Regions from separate parts of the Homo sapiens genome. Here region 2 is reported to be linked to region 1. Evidence: microRNA targets listed by miRTarBase, many of them from high-throughput screens and not tested one by one. Region 1 holds a microRNA gene; the other region holds the end of a gene's coding sequence.
The links. The annotated mature microRNA hsa-miR-4738-3p reads UGAAACUGGAGCGCCUGGAGGA and lies in region 1 at 1,774-1,795, opposite strand. An mRNA with a match to its seed (bases 2 to 7 or 8) in the 3' UTR can be bound and repressed. Matches are read on the target gene's strand: a 7mer-m8 pairs with bases 2 to 8, a 7mer-A1 pairs with bases 2 to 7 and ends in A, and an 8mer does both.

Region 2: the mRNA of DDHD2 is a reported target of hsa-miR-4738-3p. Seed matches in the 3' UTR shown: 7mer-A1 at 1,531-1,537.

The regions. Positions count from the first base shown.
Region 1 is chr17:75,782,757-75,787,152 of GRCh38, forward strand. It overlaps MIR4738 (microRNA 4738), which reads right to left and starts at 1,851; the gene lies at 1,765-1,851. It overlaps UNK (unk zinc finger), which reads left to right and starts at 2,050. Exons shown (of 16, transcript NM_001080419.3): 1 at 2,050-2,228. The coding sequence starts at 2,125. RefSeq lists enhancers at 402-581, 2,144-2,722, 2,312-2,711, 2,723-3,300 and a silencer at 2,112-2,251.
Region 2 is chr8:38,259,286-38,263,681 of GRCh38, reverse strand. DDHD2 (DDHD domain containing 2) reads right to left here. Exons shown (of 18, transcript NM_015214.3): 17 at 3,535-3,642; 18 at 846-3,082. The coding sequence ends at 3,561. It overlaps PLPP5 (phospholipid phosphatase 5), which reads left to right. Exons shown (of 7, transcript NM_001102559.2): 7 at 1-552. Among named protein-coding and RNA genes, the nearest start is that of PLPP5, 7.7 kb to the left of the region's middle.

The sequences.
Region 1 (4,396 bases):
GAGGCTGAGGAGGGTGGATCGTGAGGTCAGGAGTTCGAGACCAGCCTGACCAACATGGTGAAACCACGTCTCTACTAAAACTACAAAAATCAGGTGGGCGTGGTGGCACACACCTGTAATCCCAGCTACTCAGGAGGCTGAGGCAGGAGAATTGCTTGAACCTGGGAGGCAGAGGTTGCAGTGAGCCGAAATCACACCACTGCACTCCAGCCTGGGCAACAGAGCAAGACTCTGCCTCAAAAAAAAAAAAAAAAAAAAAAAAAAAAGGCTGTCTCTCTTACTTCGTAGTCATGCAGGTATGTTTCACTTTTTCCAGATTGGTACAACGGAGGAAAAGCAACACAGGAAATGAGGAAGAATAAAAAATGTTTATACAATGAAAAAAAGCAGAAGAAAACAAAACAAACAAAACCCAACAGTGAATGTGATGTAGTCTTGTAGGCTACTGTCCTAGTTCCTCTTGTTACCAACTTGCTGAGTAACTTTGTGCAAGTTACTTAGCTTCTCTGGGTTTCGGTTTCCTCTTTTGTAAATTAAGCAGTTTGGATGATATCATCTCCCAACTCCACCAGTACACACTTATTCTGAAGCTCATGATATACATCTATTATTTAAAATCCAGTGCTGTGAACTCTATTTCTTCAGTCAGATCACACTTGAGTATTGTGAGGCTAACATAAACCAAGTAACTTGCGTTTAATCATAGGATTAAAGCAATATACTACAACTTTTATTTGTCCTTTTGTAATTTTTCATTTTCAAACGCCCCTAGTGGCTAAACGATTTAGCCTGTTTAGGAAAAACCAGTTTCTCAACTCTGTGATGTGGCTTCTGATGTGAGGGAACTTGGAGCTAAATAAAATAAGTATGTGTCACTCAAACATTAACGATTTTCCATTAGCCCCACCACCCTTCATCCCTAAGGTTATTTGGAATGTGTTTCTTTAATGAGATAATCATTTGTTAATATAATCCCATCTAAGAAAATATAAATCAAAACCAGTGGATTTGAAATAGATTCAATATGAAAAACCAAATTAAATGACAACGGTTAAAATATCTACGGAGAACATTCTAAAACTCACAGAAACAAATGCCTAGGTCTGGGGCATCTGGCTTATTTTATAAAGTGAAGAACTTTGCTTGACTGGTGGGAAGCAGAGAGGGGAAAGATAATGTCCCAAGTAAAAAGGCTGACGTCCAGACAAGAAAACTAGAGTGGATAAATACGGGCACGCCCTACTCAAACCCAGGCCTTTCCTCTGGACCCTGTGATGCTTCTCAACACTGGCAACTTGTCAGTGTACCTCAGAGACTATTCTAGGCGGAGATTAAATTCGTCCTTGGCCCTTAATGTACTGGAAACAAGTTGGTCAGGCCAGGTGTCAGGCTGAGAAAGCACACAAGTCGTGGAGTTCCAGGTGTCGAGTTTGGCAAAGGTAAATGAAGCGCCTCGGCAAAGGCGCGGGAACTGTAGCGTGCGGTGTACCTCCTCCTTAGCAAAGCTTTCTCAATGCCTCTTAGGTTAGACCCGCCGCAGGGATGAAGGGGTTGCTGGCGGATTGCAGGTGCCTGCAGCACAGGGCCCAGAACTAAGAACCGACAACACAGATTCTTAAGCCCTGCTTGGAGCACTGCTCTGAGCTGGCATTAGAACCGAACCTAGCTGTACTAAGTATAAAGGCAAAGTAGTTATGACACTGTTGGCAGTGAAATTATACTTGGAACTCTTTCGCAGAAATCGCTAGGGCCTCCCTAGCTCTGGGCCCCTTCTCCTCCAGGCGCTCCAGTTTCATGGAAAGGCTTCCCTATGAAACTGAAAACGCGCTGGTAAGAAGGAGAAATGCGACCGGACTGCAATTCCCAGAAGCCGTCGCAGGCCCTCAGCATCCGGGACACTAGCAGCAAGGATCCCTGGGTATTGTGGTCCTGTGCTTTGCCAGCAACCCTCTGCCGACGGTAAAATTCCAGCCGGACATAGAACCACAACTCCCAGCAACCCCTGCTGCCGTGTGGGGGGTCTTCACGTTCTCGTGGCGCGGCGCAGGCGCACTGGGTCCTCGGCGCGGACCGCGCAGACTGAATAATAAAAGGGGAGCGGCGAAGAGGCAGGAAGACAAGACCATGTCGAAGGGCCCCGGGCCCGGCGGCTCCGCAGCTTCCTCGGCGCCCCCGGCCGCTACCGCTCAGGTGCTGCAGGCACAGCCCGAGAAACCGCAGCACTACACGTACGTAGAGCCCCCCCCCCCCCGCCGCGCGCGCACGCCTGACGTCAGCGGCCAGCGTGAGTCACGCGCGCAGGGAGAGCGCGAGGCGGCCTCTTCCTCCCCCCCTTCCTCCTCCGGCCCGGCCCAGACCGGTTCCAACCTGCTGGGGCCGGTCCCAACTGCCTCCAACTGCCACCAACCTCTGGTCGGGCTGTGGGGCGGGAAACTCGGTCCCGGCCGCCGAGTGGGGAAGGCGGGAGCTCGGGATGCAGAGTGCACTCTCCCTAGGCCAGGCCTTCGAGGCCTAACTGTTCCTCAGACCATAAAACCACAGTAGTAGGCTCCTTTGGGGCAGTGAGAAGTCCAAGACACAACCAAGAGGAGTTCCGTGGGGTCCAGCCCCAGAACCCACCTATGAATGATGATTAACGTGAAGTCCTGTCAGGAGATTCCGTGCAGTTTGCGCAGGAAGCCTTTTGTGTCCCTAAGGCTCGTAGGTTGTCCACGAGGGCCACACTTGCTTGAATTCACAGTCGACGTAGATAAACATGCAAAGATGGAAACGTGTCCGTGCGTGCCCATGACCGTTTCCCTCGCGGGCTGTGCGGAGCCTGAGTCTGGGAGCCCGAAGGTGATGGGTTCCAAGTATGTCTGCAGGCTCAGCAGAAATGTAGCATTAGAGGGAGCCCCAAATACTGACACTACAGGAGTCCAGCAGGATGGGAAAACCTCTTCCTGGAAGTCTTGCATCTGTGTGCTTTTAGGTCGCTGTCTTCATTTCCTTCAAGCCACGTTAAGCATTCCCTAGAGTTAGGTGATGTGGGAGAAAGATGAATAAGGGGCGGTTTCTCCTGTTAAGCAAAATGTTGCTTTCCATTTTCCCTGATGCTCTGTGAATGCCTCTCATCCCCATGGGCTCCTGAGTGATGTGCATGTTTAAAAGGATCCCCAGCTGCGAGAGGTTTTGGAACCTGGGGGGTTGAACAGCTCTTAAGTTGTTCAGTGAACGAAGAACAGAATCATCTGTTGGAGTAGAAAGAACTCAAACCAGTCAGGAGGAACTCTTGTTATAGAAGACCTTGGGAAACTGTTCTGGGGTTGGGGAACATTGGTTATAGGAAGTGTATGGTTTCTTTGTGGGATTCTTTGTTGTTGGCTGAAATCATTTAAGCTTCTTGACTACAGTCTGACTCACGTTAACCATTCCTTTTCTGATATGGACATTGCTTTCCTGGTCCTTTCTTACTGGAGATCTTTCGCAGTCTTTCCATTGATTTTGGTGAGATGTTCTTAGCTCAAAGACTACTGATGAGTTGAATGGTGTAGTCTTGATTTTCGAATCTGGAAACTTCACGTAATTGGAACTTCTTTATAATCTCTGGTTGCTCAGATCACTGTTTTTAGCAAAATAAACACATTTTGAGTCACGAGAGTCTTGGCTTCAGCAACTTGTGTTTCTGTGTTGTGTTGTCATTGAGCATACTATGGAATCTGTAATAGAAAGGCTTTCTTATTTTGGAATTGACAGGTGAAACAAGTGAACAGCTGATTAAATGTCAGTATCTGAGTCTTTGTCCTCTTGATGCTCATTTGTTTAAAACCTGTCTTTCCTGCCGGGCGTGGTAGCTCTCACGCCTGTAATCACAGCATTTTGGGAGGCCGAGGCGGATCGCATGAGGTCAGGAGTGAAGAGACCAGCCTGCCCAATATGGCAAAACCCCGTCTCTACTAAAAATACAAAAAATTAGCTGGGTGTGCTGGCGGGCGCCTGTAATCCCAGCTACTCAGGAGGCTGAGGCAGGAGAATCGCTTGAACCCGGGAGGCGGAGGTGGCAGTGAGCCGAGATCGTGCCACTGCACTCCAGCCTGAGCGACAAGAGCAAAACTCCGTCTCAAAAAACAGAAACAAAAACAAAAAAAAAGCCTGCCTTTCCATTCCTTGTGGGTAAGTATAGAGTAATGGGACCTGGCTCTTGAGGTGTCTTAGGAAATCAACAGGAGTAGGTGAAATAGCCAAGCTTGATGGGAGGTTGTAGGTGTTCTTATCTCTTTGTCTGTTCATATGTATGTGTGTTTTTATATTTGTATTTCCAAAAATCAGAGATAGAAATCAGTGGTCTTTCTTGCTAGACTTACTAGCATTCAGAAGCTGTGATGACCTGGAAAACTTCATCCCCTAGTCCTCCTAG
Region 2 (4,396 bases), not on the chromosome of region 1:
CTGATGACAATTCCATCAAGCCTTAAATAGGAAAATGTCGAATCTAGGGTAATTTATCACTTTTGTGTGCATCTTATCTGAGTCCAGCCATCTGGTACTGCTGTGCATTTTGAACACCGTGGGCATAAACAATTTGTTGAATTACTAAGTGAAAACAATAATAAAGAAGAAAATGGTCAGGAGTGTGGTTTCAGCACTACTAACAGATGACTGTTTCTACCTCATTTGACCATAACTGTACTTGTGAGCTTCTTTCCTTCCATTCATGACTGAAGATCTGCTCAAATGCACCAACACTGCCAAGTGACTAAGGTAGAAAAGAAAAATGACAGGTATCGTCATCTGAAGGACAGATGAATCTTTTTCTGCCCCTTCTTCACAATGGAATATAAGGAACAATTATGGGATGTCATCAGAATGGATGCCATAGGACCTACAGCTCCCTTTCTCTTTATTGTGATTATACTTTAAATATGACATTGTCTTTTATGTGTATGTTCCTATATTTTCAATGTATCTTTTTCCTTCAGTAAACCTGATATTCAAATAAAATGGTAAATGTGTGCTTTTTTAAATATTTAAAGTACATTAAGGGGCTGGAACTTTAGTAAAGCAAAACATTGAATTCCCCATCCGCCCTAAGTGATTCAACTGCTGTTATCTATAGTACTGGCTAATATTTATAAATACCAAAGGAAAGTCTCTTATAATTGCCATGCTTTAAATTCTGAACTTAAATTCTGCCTATGACAATTAAAATACCAGTCAACAGGAAAGAACTTACATATTAGTTCTTTGCCCAAAACCTATTTTTTTGTTTTAGTAATACATAAAGACAGAGAAAATCGTGACTGTACTGATTTTCTTGACTTTGAGACGGGTGAGTCCAGGTAAAAGTAGGCCACTAGTCAATATGGTTTCATGTTAGTATTTACTAAAGTTTTAAATATAATCACGTAGAAAACAAACATTTCAAAAATGCAAAATATTAGAAATCTAATCAGTGCTATTAATCTTTCCATGCAAACAATCTCTTTTGCTGAGATAAGTGATACTAGTTCTGCAGCTGGGAATATGTACAAAATGATGCTGTACCAGAGTTTAAAAATAGGGTTGGTCTAGAGATTGCACATGATACAAATGAAGCAGCGCAAATAATATATGACTAAATACAGGATTTCAATCAAGCTTATCATCCTGGGAATATACAGCTATAATACCATGAATAGACAAGATATAAAGCTCTTTCACAGTTACCCACCCCTCACCACTAGGAAAGAAACATTTCTTAATACAAAGAGTGGTTTATCTGGCTATCCAGGGCTATGCTGTCCATCTTTGGTTATAGGGACTCCCTCTGCTTATCCTTTGGTTTACTCTTAAATAGCACCTATTCTGCCAATAGGAAGAGTAAACATAAATTTGAAGACCACAACTTGGCAAAAGCTTCCCCTTAATATACAGTGAATACTTAATTCTCAATAACTCAGAGTTTATATACCTTTAAAAAAATAAAGTATTCCATATATCTGAAACTTAGTGGCATACTTAGCACTAGACTATAAGCAGATGACAAAGAAAGGCCAGGCCTGACCTATACCCCAACCTTACCTCTACAATCTCCATGGTGACAGTAATTACCCTTCATTTTCCTTTTCTTTCCAGAAAGGGATAAAGACCACTGCTGTCTAAGGAATGGCTTCAGTAAATATTAAATGTCAGTGGCTTTGAATACCATAACATTTATAAAAAAATTTATAAACAATAAACCACAGCTCGCCTGCCTTTGCCACTCTATAAACAGAGGCCTGTGGAATCTGAGAGCAAGTATAAAGGATTATCATAAAGAGAACTACAAAGACAATGACAAACTGACCAATGAAGAAGAAAAATCTACAGCAAAGTAGTGAAAAGATGCCTTGACAAAATTAGTGTGCAGTCACTTGTGTTCTTAGAAGTAAACCTCACTTCATATGTTCCAGACTCAGCTGACACTGACTCTGGAATAGCTGTTTCTTGGACCCTACAGACATAAGTTTTTCTTTCAGAACAAGTTAAACATTTCCCCCTAGCCAAACCTACCTGCTCAACCAATGCTGCCCGTGCCAAGAGCCTTTTAAATATGCTTTGTGGATTATGGATACCTAAGAAGGAAAGAGGATACACAATACTACCTTAGCTCAAGTAGAAATGGCAGGTGACAAATTCTGTTTCACCATAAAGGCACCACTAAAAGGTTTTATTTAGAACCTCAGCAGCCTGTAGAGGCTACACAATTTCAGGTTCATCAGCTTTTACAACTATTTTCAACGTAAGAATAGAAGCTATTAGCAAATAACTTCTATCAAATATAAAAGGGAGGCCTAGGATATACAACATCTTTGCTTTATAAAGATGCACCTAACATGAACTAACTTGTCAACTTTAGACTCTTACAGCAGCTCAAACAGTTGCAAAAACAATGAACATCAGTGATTTCTGGCAATAAGTCTGTCAGTTCTAAGAGAGTAAACAACACTTTTTTAAAGCTACATTCTAGTCTTTCTTCATACACTACACATAAGAAAGAAATGCAGGTTCAAAAATAAATCACCCAAAAGTCTTTTCCATGTCCACTGAGACTTAGCCTTCAGTTCAACACAAACAAGAGATAAGTGTACTCCAAAATGCCTTCTGAATCTCAAGAATCTGTTTCCAAACTAGAACATTTTCTAAAGATAAGCAATAAGTTCCTTAAAAACATGTCTACCCCACCCAAAACAAATCAAACCCAAAATAGGCTTTACACCCTGTCAAGTACTAATCAATAAAGTGTGGCAACTATAAACTATCATCAAAGAATTAAAGACACAAACCACCCCCAGCTATGCAGAAAAAAATGGCAAGTGTTTATATGAAGCCAGTGGTTAAAAGTAATAGGGCCTTTTGCTTTTCCATTCATTTCCAAAGAGGAAGATTATCTTCCAAAGACCCCAGTGGTGAGTAAGTGGCAGGCAACATGCAGGAAATGACGCAGCTGAGGAGAGGAAAATTGCAGCAACAAACAGGTGGATTTTCTGGGGAAGGATCCCTCAATGTCCGTCTAGGGAAGAAAGTGGGAGAAGAGCTGCAGTCACAACTGGAAGGCAACCACAGAGAATGCCAGAGTCGAATACACAGACTTTGTAATTTCACATCTAAAAGGCTGAGTAATTTAAATCTCAGGATGGGTGGTTGGTAATTAAAATCATAACTGTTGCCACAGTAACTCTTAGATAACAGAACCATTAAAACTCTGAGTTTAGATCCTAAAAAATGACAGGTGTCATTGGACAAAATCTCTAGCAAAACAGACATACACTAATCTTCCTCTAAATGGGCTACTGTGTTTTTTTCCCCATGAATTTCTACCAGTCCCTCTAAAAATGAATAGCAGCCTAGATCTTGGTGACAGGCAACAGCTAGTATATTTAAAAAGAGCTTGAGGCTCCATAGTTCATTATAACATGTTAATATGTAAGAATTACACTATATATATGACATTTTAAAACTTACATTAAGCAGCCATAGATGGGTCATTTTTACTGTAAAGGCTGATCAAGGAAGATACCCTGGGTTTGGTAGATCTCTTTGAGGACGAGCAATACTGTATCTTCAGACTCCCTATAAAGAGAAAAAATTATGTTGAGAAAAGGAACTAACACTTGTGCCAAATGTTTTACATATATTATCTCATTTAATCCATACAACCATCTTGCAAGTTTATTTTTTACTTCTGCAAAGAAATGAGATTCAGAAGTAATGTAATTGGCAGTGGTTTGGAAGGTGACCTGGCAAAGAACTCTGGCATTAAGTCTAGTAATATAAAAAAGCTAGGAAGAGAGGCCAGGTGCGGTGGCTCATGCCTGTAATCCTAACACTCTGGGAGGCTGAGGTGGACAAGTCACTACAGGTCTGGAATTTGAGCCAGCCTGGCCAACATGGTGAAACCCCATCTCCACTAAAAATACAAAAACTAGGGCTGGGCACGGTGGCTCACGCCTGTAGTCCCAGCACTTTGGGAGGCCAAGGTGGGTGGATCACAAGGTCAGGAGTTTGAGACCAGCCTGGCCAATATGGTGAAACCCCATCTCTACTAAAAATACAAAAATTAGCAGGGTGTGGTGGTATGCGCCTGTAGTCCCAGTTACTGGGGAGACTGAGGCAGAAGAATTGCTTGAACCCAGGAAGCGGAGGTTGCAGTGAGCCGAGATTGCACCACTGCACTCCAGCCTGGCAGATAGGCGAGACTCCGTCTAAAAAAAAAAAAAAAAAACTAGCCAGGCGTGGCAGCATGCGACTGTAGTCCCAGCTACTCAGGAGGCTGAGGCAGGAGAATCGCTTGAACCGAGGAGGCAAAGGTTGCAGTGAGCCGAAG